Regions from separate parts of the Homo sapiens genome. Here all the other regions are reported to be linked to region 3. Evidence: microRNA targets listed by miRTarBase, many of them from high-throughput screens and not tested one by one. Region 3 holds a microRNA gene; each other region holds the end of a gene's coding sequence.

What was found. The annotated mature microRNA hsa-miR-219a-1-3p reads AGAGUUGAGUCUGGACGUCCCG and lies in region 3 at 2,722-2,743, shown strand. An mRNA with a match to its seed (bases 2 to 7 or 8) in the 3' UTR can be bound and repressed. Matches are read on the target gene's strand: a 7mer-m8 pairs with bases 2 to 8, a 7mer-A1 pairs with bases 2 to 7 and ends in A, and an 8mer does both.
Region 1: miRTarBase lists HSPA6 as a target of hsa-miR-219a-1-3p. The part of its 3' UTR that is shown has no 7-base or 8-base seed match.
Region 2: miRTarBase lists STARD13 as a target of hsa-miR-219a-1-3p. Seed matches in the 3' UTR shown: 7mer-m8 at 1,240-1,246.

Annotation. Positions count from the first base shown.
Region 1 is chr1:161,525,925-161,529,924 of GRCh38, reverse strand. It overlaps HSPA6 (heat shock protein family A (Hsp70) member 6), which reads right to left. Exons shown (of 1, transcript NM_002155.5): 1 at 3,031-4,000. The coding sequence ends at 3,335. Among named protein-coding and RNA genes, the nearest start is that of TRL-CAG1-6, 2.5 kb to the left of the region's middle.
Region 2 is chr13:33,101,812-33,105,811 of GRCh38, reverse strand. It overlaps STARD13 (StAR related lipid transfer domain containing 13), which reads left to right. Exons shown (of 14, transcript NM_178006.4): 14 at 102-2,675. The coding sequence ends at 219. Among named protein-coding and RNA genes, the nearest start is that of KL, 87 kb to the right of the region's middle.
Region 3 is chr6:33,205,175-33,209,174 of GRCh38, forward strand. It overlaps MIR219A1 (microRNA 219a-1), which reads left to right and starts at 2,661; the gene lies at 2,661-2,770. HSD17B8 (hydroxysteroid 17-beta dehydrogenase 8) reads left to right here. Exons shown (of 9, transcript NM_014234.5): 3 at 47-163; 4 at 273-365; 5 at 466-551; 6 at 654-738; 7 at 960-1,002; 8 at 1,201-1,275; 9 at 1,464-1,657. The coding sequence ends at 1,480. It overlaps RING1 (ring finger protein 1), which reads left to right and starts at 3,326. Exons shown (of 7, transcript NM_002931.4): 1 at 3,326-3,470; 2 at 3,591-3,726. The coding sequence starts at 3,649. RefSeq lists enhancers at 1-193, 194-1,074.

The DNA.
Region 1 (4,000 bases), not on the chromosome of region 3:
CGCTAACGCAGTAGTGTCAAACTTTGGTAAGGATCAGGTTCTCCCACCGCCTTGCCCCGCTCCCCAGCCTTTTTTTTTTTTTTTTTTTTTTTAGACAGGGTCTCACTCTGTACCCCAGGCTGAAGCACAGTGGCTCAATCTTGGCTCACTGCAGCCTCCGTCTTCCCGGTCCACGCGGTTCTCGTGCCTCAGCCTCCCAAGTACCCGGGGTTCGCGCCTGTAGTCCCAGCTACTCCGGGAGCCTGAGGCGAATCTCTTGAGCCCAGGGGGCAGAGGTTTTTGTGAGCCGAGATCGGCTGACTCCAGGCTGCACTCCAGCCTGGCGTACAGAGTGAGACCCTGTGTCCAAAAAAAAAAAAAGTAACATGAATAAAATCTACAGTTAGTCATTAATGTTATACCAATGCCAATTTCTTAGGTTTGATAAATATAACATGGTTATGTAAGGTTTTAACATTAGGGGAAGTAGAAAGGATATAGAGTAATGACTTTATGTAGTATCTTTGCAACTTGTCTGTTCATCTAAAATTATTGCAAAATCAAAAATTCTTTTAAAAAACCAACAACTTGAAAGTGGTTGCCTGTGAGGAGTAGGACCTGGGAAGGGGGCAAGAAACTGCTTGTACCAAGAATTGATTTTTTTAATAATGGGCATGTGTTCTGATTTAATTTGTTCAAACTTTTTTCCCCCCCTTTGGAACTGGGTGACATAGTTGTGATTACAATAATCAAACTAAGACTACATACAATATAAGGATTTTTAGATACCTAGTATACAAGAAACAGTCCCCAAAGAAACTAAACCAAAATGATCAACAGACGTTTAAAAGTAAATAAAGTTTGTTTATATTTCTCTATAGAAAAATAGATTGCACTCAAATGGGAGGATCTGAGATGTCACAACTAAACACGATAAAAATCTTTCTTCTTATATTCTGTGTGTGTTGGGTTTTTTAAAAGGATAAAAGGCATACTATCAAAATACTAAGAAACTATAAAAAAGTGAGTACTATCAATCCTCTTGAGAAGTTCAAACAGGTTGAGGGGGGTCAATGTTGAGAATTGAGATGAGATTCAGGAAAGGAAGAATGTAATGCAGGATGTACGTGTTACTCCATCTCTCTCTCTCTTTTTTTTTTTTTTCAGGTTCCTTCCATGTGAAGCCAGGCTGCGTAAGACTTGGGCCAGGGCCAGGAAAAGAGGGCAGTTAAAAATGTGAAATGACAGCCAGGGACAAGTGAGTTGTTAGTGTAACCTTCTCTCCGTCTTTAAAAAATCAACCTAAGAAATATAATGTATAATGTAGCATTGTTCTAGCCAAGCTCTCCCATAATTTCTGAGATAAAAATAAATCTCCCAATGCCCATAGGGCAAATATACTCTGGATTGGATTGACTGGGAACTAACACAAGTTTATCCTTTTGATTATTTTGTTTACACCAACAAAGCAAAGGCAAATATCCTTGCTTTTATATTGTCATTGACTCAACTGGCAGTAAAGTTGTGCCTAAGGATATTTTGCAGATTCCGTCACTTGCTATAAAAAACACACAACTAGCTAGGCGTGGTGGCTCACACCTGTAATCCCAGCACTTTGGGAGGCTGAGGTGGGCAGATCACCTGAGGTCACGAGTCTGAGACCAGCTTGACCAACATGGTGAAACCCCATCTCTACTAAAAATACAAAACTTAGCTGGGTGTGATGGCAGGCAACTGTAATCCCAGCTACTGGGGAGGCTGAGGCAGGAGAATCGGTTGAACCCGGGAGGCAGAGGTTGCAGTGAGTTGAGATCGCACCTTTGCACTCCAGCTTAGGCGACAGAGCAAGACTCTGTCTCTGCAAGTATACAATAAAATGCACACTTTTTCTCACGGGGCTCAGCATCCAGCTGTGTTTCAAAGGAATAATATGACCAATTTCAAAACATCTAGGGGAAGGTCTGGTAATAAGTGGAGTTATGGCCTATTTGTAAGGTGGCATGCTGAGGCTCTAGACTCAGGCAGGACAGGGTTCTTCATTCCAGCCTTCCTGTCCCCACTTTATAGCTTTGTGTCTTTGAATAAATTGTTTAACCTCTTTGAACCTCATAATGCTCATCTTCAAAAAGAAGATAGTATTCCATAATGCTGCTGTGAAGATTAAGTTAGATTGTGTATGTCAAGTACCTGATACATAGTTATCACCCAACTAACAATTAATAGTAATTGCTAATGTTTGTTGATAGTATATTATACACCTTTCTTCTTTGCCTCTTACATATATTAATTAATTGAACCCTCACAACAGTCTGGAGGTTGGTACTGTTATCATCATCATCATCCCCACTGCAGGGAAGGGGAAACTGAAGCTTGGAGAGTTTAATTTGCACAGTATATAAAGTGGCAGGGCTGAAAATCTATAGAGTCTTGTTCCAACATCCTCATTATGCCATGGGCAGAAACCACATGGGATCATACTATTTCTCTGACATAGATAAAGTCAATAGTAACTTTAATCGTACCACCAGATCTACTTCCTCTGACATATACCATCCTCCAGAGTCCAGGACTCAGAGTCTTTTCTCTAAAAGAACAATGGATAAAGTGACATGATTACAAACAGCTAATAAGCATGTAAACTATTTGTTAGTGTTATTAAAACAGCTAGACTGACAAACTCAACCAGGTTCCTATGACAAAAATACAGAATTTGAATCATAGGATCACACATGGAAACACTGCCAGTACTTAAGTTTCTCTTCATTCTCTGCTTTTCCAATTCCACATCTCTCCCTCTCTCTTCCTGCATTGTAAGTCTCAATCCTCTCCTCTTTACCAGCCCTAACTCTTCAGTACTGTTCCAATGTATTGGCCTCAAATTCTTTTCCAAATCCTGCCTTCCCCTATAGGAATCATGTACACGGTCTCAGGAATATTCTTCACATTCCTCCTTCAGCACCCACCCCAACATTTTCTGCTTCTGAAAGCCTTTGGGTACTTTTGTACTTCGATTGGTTGGAATGAAAAACAAGAAGGAGTTTTAAAAGCTTATTTAGGTCTATAACTATATTTTACATAACAAAATTCATACATGCAAGTAACAAAGTACACAAAATATAGGTGAAAGCAATGTTAAAGTGCCACACAAGTTTTAATAAATTAATGACTTTTTATTTGAAGCAGAAGAGGATGAACCGCCCTCCCCGCAAAAAGTCAAAAGACTTCAGTTATCCTGGGAAGAAAGTTCTAGCTTTGGAGGGAAAGTTCATCTCTGAAGGGCAGGATCATAGAAGACAGTCTAGAAGGCCCATAGCATAGCCCTGACAGTCACAGCTGACTTATCACGAAGGGCCATTCAATCAACCTCCTCAATGATGGGGCCGGTGCTGGGGTCCCCCTGGCGGGCTTGAGTGCCACAACTGCTGCCCCCAGGGACACCAGGCCCCCCATAGAGCCTGGAGAAGATGGGGCGACAGATTTGCTCCAGCTCCCTCTTCTGATGCTCATACTCCTCCTTCTCTGCCAGCTGGTTGTGCTCCAGCCAGGCAAGGACTTCCCGACACTTGTCTTGCATTTTGCGCCTGTCCTCTTCGGGAATCTTGTCCCTAAGGCTTTCCTCTTGCAAAGAACCTTTCACATGGAAGACATGGGCCTCCAGCGAGTTTTTGGCAGCCACTCTGTCCCTCTGGGCCTCATCCTCAGCCTTGTACTGCTCGGCTTCATGAACCATCCTCTCCACCTCCTCCTTGCTCAGCCGGCCCTTGTCATTGGTGATGGTGATCTTGTTAGCCTTACCTGTGCTCCTGTCAGTGGCTGTCACGCTCAGGATGCCATTAGCATCAATGTCAAAAGTCACCTCTATCTGGGGGACTCCACGTGGGGCAGGAGGGATGCCACTGAGTTCAAAACGCCCCAGCAGGTTGTTGTCCTTGGTCATGGCCCTCTCACCCTCATACACCTGGATGAAGACCCCAGGCTGGTTGTCCGAGTAGGTGGTGAAAGTCTGGGTCTGCTTGGTGGG
Region 2 (4,000 bases), not on the chromosome of region 3:
CACTGGTCATCGGGGCCCAAGGGCAGCCCTGTCCACCAAAACTAATTGCTGTGATTTGGAAACAAACTTTCCCACTTCCTTTCTGATTTCTTTCCCCACAGAGGTCACTCCCCAGAATGGTACAGCAAAGGCTTTGGACATCTGTGTGCAGCAGAAGTTGCCAGGATTAGAAACTCTTTCCAGCCCCTCATTGCTGAGGGCCCAGAAACTAAAATCTGAGTTTTGCCCAGTGTGACATCAAACTCAGGGAAGAGGAAGCTAAAGTGACGAGTGTGGCAGAGAGTGTGCATGTGAGAAAGCGAGAGAAAGAGGAACTGAAGGACGCGGTTAATGCCTAAAAATGGAAACGTTAAGAAGTTGGAATGTTGGAGATGCAAGAATTTCCAAGAACTTTCTTAGCCTTCCTGGAGATGGCTACATCCCTACTAATATAATTTTAAAATGAGAACTTTATATATATTACTTAAAATTAAATGGACTATTCCTTGTGCATTGCCTAATTTGCTATTTAAAGGCTTCTAAGAAGCGTATACCTAACTGTAAATAAATGTATGTATAGCATATGTACATATGTGTGTATATCTCCATCTTTACTGTATATATGTAAAATACCAATTTTATATAGAATTGTGTGTTTTGAAAATGACGGTGTCTGACTCAGTGAGTCCCTTCCTCACACAGTTCTTTCCAAGTGGCTCTGGGCCCCATCTCTCCACTGTCCTGTAAGCTGTGCAGAACCTGCTGCTAACACCAAGGTGTGAACATGCCCTGATGCCTAACCAAAGATGAGTTAACCAAAGGAAAATAACATTAAAGGAGACTTATGTGTTAACGCTTTGTTTCTGCTATTCAAAAACTGAGAGTGGAGATCTGGGATAAAGCAAGGAAATAATAATTACTCCTCCTTAAAGCAAATGGGGGGGTGAGAAGTCATTACCAAATTTAAAGCTAGATGAGGAGTTGCCACTGGGCCCAGTAAGATGGAATTTCAGTGAGATATGGACCACCGGAGTCAGCGAGAGTGACTGAAACAGAAGCGATACCTCTCGCTCCCATGCCCATCACTACAGACCCCAAGTCAAGATGAATATCATAGCCTTTACTTCTTCACAGCCAAAGGGAGCCCCTGTGTTGTCTCAAGTTTTTATAAATACATTTCATAATGTTATTAAATGTCATTCTATTTGACCAGTGGCCTATTTGGTCACAGTTAATTGGTGTTTTCTTATTGCACTGAATTCAACTCCAGACACCATACAAAGGGAGATGATGGCCATTCCGTTCAAATCCTAGATCGTTACAGCTTCAGGGAATTCATATTTTGTTATGTGTAGGATACTCTTAAAATGTAATTCATTAAACTTTTACAATCTGAAAGACAGGGTTTTTAACTAACATGAGACCAAAACTATGTTCTTTGATTAGTTTTAGATAGTATAATCGGGTTTATTAATTCTTCTGTGTTTCTTCACTAGCCAGTCCAAGCTACCTATGCATTTGACCCAACCTTATTTATTATTGTACAGATGAAGCGAATTGACTCCCTTTAGCCAACTGCTAATGGATCGAATGTGCTTTTTATTGTAATTCAACAGCTATAGAGAGAAAGATAACTTATTGTGTGTTTGATTTCAGGGAGAGAGATTTTCTTTGGTCATCCATAATAGAGATTGATAAGATTTAGCAACTGGTGTTGGAGAAAAAAAGAAAAGCAAATGAGTGTTTTCAGGTTTTTTTGCATTATATGCATTTATGTAATGTTTCTGTTATCAGCAATGTGCAATTATTTTATTGAGAGGAATAAAAAAGCTTTCTATGAGTTTGGTATGGTGCGAGGAAAATCTTACAGTTTGAATTATGACCTAGAAATTTTTCATTCCCATATCTACCTAAGAAGGAAGCAGTAAATCCATAATTTACCTTTTGGGCAATGCTTTGTGAGCAAAACAAAGTCACTTCTGCCATAACATCTTGAATTTAACCATATATGCCAGATTACTTTATATGCATCAACAAGATCACCAGTGAAGTTTAATCTAGCTAAACACTGGTCCTGCTCCTGAGATGGGATCCTATGTGTTTGGAAAACGTGATAGGCACACGAGGATGAGTGGCTTTGTATCGCCCAGAGAGGTGCTTGTCCAGATTTCACATGCACATGAATTGCCTGGGGATCTTGTGAAACTGCAGACTCTGCTCCAAGTAATCTGGGCTGGGCCTGAGATTCTGCATTTCTAAGGAGTCTCAGGGATGCCTATGCTGCTGGCCTAAAACCACACTCAGAAACGAGGACCTAGAAGATCCCTAAAACAGAATAAGAACAAATGTGATTGTATTTCTGATTCTCCCTCTCTTCGAATTATCTGACTTTTTTGTTTTTGTGCACATAGTAATCATATCACCGCTGCATAACAACACAGTGCATCTTTTTAAAACAAGGAAAAGGGAAAAAAAGGAGAAAAAACGATGCATCAAGCTTGTTTGTCAAATACCACAGTATTTTATTCATTGTTATCTTGCCAATGGAAATAAAGTATGATATTGCATTTAAATATTATATTTATACCTCATGTATATTTTTACCTCAATTGTTGATATCAATCATCAATTGTAAATAAATAATTGCCAAGGCAAATAAATTTATATATATTAAATATTTCCTATTTTCTATAAAATAGATGTTGATTTTCATGCTTCATCTTTAAATGGAAAATTTGCTTCATGAGGAAGATTTCTCCCAAGATAGCCTGCCATGACTTTGACTCCTTGGTACCATCTGTAGTCAATACTGTCTTCAAATACAAAGAAGTTGTTGTCAACAGACATTCACTATCAGGCTGGGTGCCTTAACCTGGATCTAAGGGATTAAAGTGATGGGTGGGGATTTTTTTTTCTTAAATTTCATTGTCCTTAAATCTAGAAGTTATAATTCATAATTTTTTTCATATTCATAATATTTTTATCAAAGGTTTAGTAAACTCTTTAGCTACATTTTATTTTTGTTAAGTGGACAAGAAATCAAGATATGATGAAATGACTTACAGCCGCACTACTAGACCATGAAAAGTAGCCACAAATGACTCTAAATCTCTTCCCTTCTACCCTTGAAATCTGAGCATCTCTTCTAAATATCAGCCCAGAGAGCCCTTAAGAAAGCCGGGGCTCTCAAACATTCTCAGGCACAGGCTTCCAAAGCCACAGAAGCCCAGAAGACTGTATGCCCCTACAAAAGTTGTCCCAACTCTGCTCTCTTATCTCATGCACACCTTCCCCTCTTACTTGCAAGTTTTGCTTTCATAGTAGGCAAAGGGGGAATTCAATGGCGCTTTTTCTCTTCTACATGAAGGAAAAGAATGTGATGGTCATTCTAGCAGCCGCAGGCTACAGATGTCCTGAGAGTATGGATCATATGAATTCAAAGGTGATTCTTGCTAATTACTCTGATCTCATCACCATATATGTATCAAAACATGCAGTGACTATGTACCCCACAAATATGTACAATTATTATTTGTCAACTAAAAGAACTTTGAAAAGGAAAGAAAAGTTTTTTACATTATTCCAAACACTCTTCATGAAATTCTTAGACATAAAATTGTTCCACCTGTGTCTTTTGATATTTGGTTACAGAAAAACTGGACATATGGTTCCTTCTCAGGAAGATAAATGTAAAGGTTTAAAACAGACCCCAACCAAATGGAGTGTCACATTCTGATACGAACGCAAAGTCAATGTGTGCTGACTGCACAAGCAGTGAATAAACACCTGACCTTGTGACACTGGAATGTTGCAAAGTCATGAAGTTTAAACAACTGATGATGTACAATTTTTGACATTCCATAGGCAGACTATATCCCTTGTAGTTTTTCTTAAAGACAGTGTTTACTTTCATTTTAATAATCCCACTCTTCAGCCTCCTAGATGTCACCTAGTTTATATCCTTCTGGTGCACAGCTGAGGCTCAAAATTCCCAGCAATATTGTATCTCTGCAGAAAACTT
Region 3 (4,000 bases):
GGCTTTTTGTGGGGGGTTTTTGATGCGTAACCTCCCCCTCCCATAGGCCTGCTTTTCTCGCCCACCATCTGTCGTTGTGTCCTGTGCGGGCATCACCCAGGATGAGTTTCTGCTGCACATGTCTGAGGATGACTGGGACAAAGTCATAGCTGTCAACCTCAAGGTGGCGATCTCTGAACCTGCGACGTTTGGCCCCCTTAGCCTGGGGAGGGAGTTGGAGGAGGGCTGTCACCCCAGCTGATCTTTTCTCCCTTGTTACCCTTTCCCGCCAGGGCACCTTCCTAGTCACTCAGGCTGCAGCACAAGCCCTGGTGTCCAATGGTTGTCGTGGTTCCATCATCAACATCAGTAGCATCGTAGGAAAGGTCAGGTTGAGTTGGACGAGGTCAGCCAGCCAAGTGGTATAGAGAGGAGAACCCCTCCTTGAGACTCCTGACTCATTCCACATCTCTGACTCACCTATAGGTGGGGAACGTGGGGCAGACAAACTATGCAGCATCCAAGGCTGGAGTGATTGGGCTGACCCAGACCGCAGCCCGGGAGCTTGGACGGTTGGTCAGATGCTTGAGGGTGCTGGGGAGCACCTGGGGGGTCTGAGGGAGGTACCAGCATTCAGCCCTCTCCAGAATCGGCAGCCACTCTCCTTCCCACAGACATGGGATCCGCTGTAACTCTGTCCTCCCAGGGTTCATTGCAACACCCATGACACAGAAAGTGCCACAGAAAGTGGTGGACAAGGTAGGAGGCTGTGGGTGGAGGGCAGAATCATTCAGAGACTCAATCTCTCTGGGCTTCACAGAGAGAGAGAGAGAGAGAGAGAGAGAATACTGGGCACAGTTCCTGGCAAACATTAAATATTCAATGAATGTATGAGAAATGAAGACAAAAAAGGGTCACAGACTCAGTCTTCAAAAAAATCCATAAAAGAAGCTTTCACCCACATGAGTATTTCCTTACAGATTACTGAAATGATCCCGATGGGACACTTGGGGGACCCTGAGGGTGAGCACTGAATGTAGTGGGGTCCCTGGGAAGGGGGCCTGAATGAAGAGATCCCCAAAGTTTGGGGATTTTCTAGGGGACTGGTGGTTGGTGTCTGTGGAGAGGTTTGTGGGGAGGGATGTCTTTGGTGGGAGATTATGGCTGTTTTGGGTCTATGGGAGTGAGCAGAATTCTGCCCTCTCCCCACCATTCTCATAGATGTGGCAGATGTGGTCGCATTCTTGGCATCTGAAGATAGTGGATACATCACAGGGACCTCAGTGGAAGTCACTGGTATGAGGCCAGCATGGGGAGGGAGAGGGCAGAGAAGTAGAACCCAGACTATATGAGAAAGCAAGTAAGGGGAGTCTGGAGCCACTGGGAAGGGCAGAGGTTCCCAAGGCCAGGGACAGAAGTGGGTACCCCCTAGCCCATTTGTGTCTCCACCCATGCATCTGTCCAAATGTTTCTGCCCCTCCCAGGAGGTCTTTTCATGTAACTGCCTCAAGGACCCTGGACTCTGCTCACCCCCCCACCACTCTGCCTGGCCTCCTGCTGATGAGGACTCTAAGTTCCCAGGATACAAAAGGGGTGGCAGTGTATGGTTCAGGAATGCTGAATATGGGAAGCAGGGGTGCTTGTGACCCTAATAAATTCCAAGTCCTCTTCCCTGCCACCTCCGGCTCTTCTTGTGTCCAAGCCCTCAGACCCTTCCCCACCTCCCCCTCCTTTCCCTTTCCCGAAGGATTGTTCCCTTTCTCTGCCTGGTCTCCCAGGGCAACCCCCGCCGCCGGGTGTGAGAGGAAAGAGTATGTGTCACTGTGTATGCGTGACACTCCGGGTCTTTTTGAAGGGAGGGGTTCGTGCGTCACCCCTTTCCACTGGTTCTGCAGCACCAGTCCCCTCCCCCCAACTCCCTGGGTTCTTATGGTCCCCAAGGGTGATTTGTTCATGGCCCCATCTTGGTGTCCAGTCTGGCCTTGAAAGGGGGTCTTGGAACAGGTGGCCCTCCCCCACCCCTCTCCTTTCTCTGAGTCCCCCCCTCCCCTTTCTCTCCACCTTACAATAGCTGCAGCCGGCCTGGGGTCGGATGGGGGGGATTAGGGGAGGGGGCCAGGATTAGGGGAATGAACCAGCCGATGAAAGGGGCTGGAGAGAGCAGGAGGGAGGGGGCTGGGAAGAGGAGGAGGAAGGGGAGGGGGGTCTGCGCTAATCGACTCTGGCGCCCACATAAGGACTGGCCACGGACTGAAGGAGAGGACAGGGAAGTAGGGGGGAACTGGGGTGGGGGGCGAGGGCACCCACTGCTGCCTTGTCCCAGGGACAGGCCACCCCCTGGCAGCCGCAGCCCAAGTCCGGGAGCCTCAGCTCGGGCGGGGACAAGATGCCCATCAGGGTCTCTAACTGCCCCCCACCCCCTCGCCCTGTATCCCTCTCATTCCCTACACTCAATGGGGATCGCTCTGCCCCTTCCTCTTCTCTTTCCTCCCCATCCCCTTCGTTTACTCTAGAGTCCTCGAAGAGGCTTCTGCCCACTTCCCACTCCAGACATTCTGCCCCTGTGTACCCCACCCACACGCGCACCCCCCCTTCCCAATGGGAGCTCCATCTTGTGTATGTCCCTGTTTCCGCGTGGTGTCTCCATTCCCCCTTTCCTCCCGTGCGCCTCCCTCCCTTCCCCGCCCCGGGCCGCGGCTCCTGATTGTCCAAACGCAATTCTCGAGTCTATGGCTCCGGCCGAGAGTTGAGTCTGGACGTCCCGAGCCGCCGCCCCCAAACCTCGAGCGGGAGAGCGGGTCGGAGGGTCTAGGGAGAGCCAAAGCAGAGGGTGGAGGGAGTCCCCAGGGTGGTAAGGGGAATCCCGGGCACATCGGGACCTAGGTGTGTTCTCAGGACTAGAAGGCTAAAGCGGCAGATCTTTTGCAGCCTTTTCCCCCGGGATCCTGGAATGGGGGTTACGGAGAAGTGAGGGGGGTTGATCCCCAGAGTCGCCAGGGTACGCAGAGTGGGGGAGGTAGCCCTTTTCACGAGCCCTCTGTCCCCTCCTGGGGTCCCAGATATTCCAGGCCCCGGCCCCCCGGAGCTGAGGCCCCGCGTGGGGGCCTCTGGAAGGGAACCGAGGCTAAGGTTGTTGGCCGCGCGACGGTGCTGGGCCGGGGGCGGAGACCGTGGTTCCCTAAGTGGCGCAGAACTCCCGGGACGCAGGATCCTCACGCGGGACGAGCCCGTCCCGTGGGCGGGAGAACCGCGGCGTCCACGTCCCGTCCCACCCGCGCCGCGAATGGTGGGTGACGTCTCCGCCGGCGGGGGGAGCGGGTGTAGCGGAGGAGCAGGCGGAAGTGACGTAGGGCCCCAGCGCCCGGGCCATGGCGGCGGCGGTGGCGGGAGCTGCTGTCTGAGCAGCGGTTGCGGACCGAGCGAACTTGGCCCAGGAGCCCGGGCCTAGGGAGAGGCGCGGCGGCGGCGGGAGCGCGAACGGCTGGAGCTGGGTGAGGGGCAGTGCCGGCGCGGGGGCGGGAGCGGGGGCGGAGAGGGGCGCTTCTGGAGGGGCGGGGTCTACGCGAGGGGCGGCCCCCCTGACGCCCTCCTCCCCTTCCCCCCACCCCCAGCCTTCTTCGCCTTCTCCTCGGCTGTGGAGCCCTGGTGGGGGGTCTGCGCCCGGTCACCATGACGACGCCGGCGAATGCCCAGAATGCCAGCAAAACGTGGGAACTGAGTCTGTATGAGCTGCACCGGACCCCGCAGGTGACAGGCATTCTCCCTTTCAGGCTTACCCCCTCCCCCAAACCCTTATATCCACAGACCGCATCACACAGCTTCTTTTCCGTAATTTGCTCTATTCTGCCTTGCCTGGCCCTACCTTTGAATCACCTTAATCTTTCCAAAGCACTTTCGCATTTAGCTCATTTAATCCTCAAAACAGCCCTGCCAGAGAGGTGGAACAAGTATTATTATCTTCATTTGAAAGATCACAAACACAAAAATTACCTTCCCTGTTCCTCATTCAGTGTCATAAGTC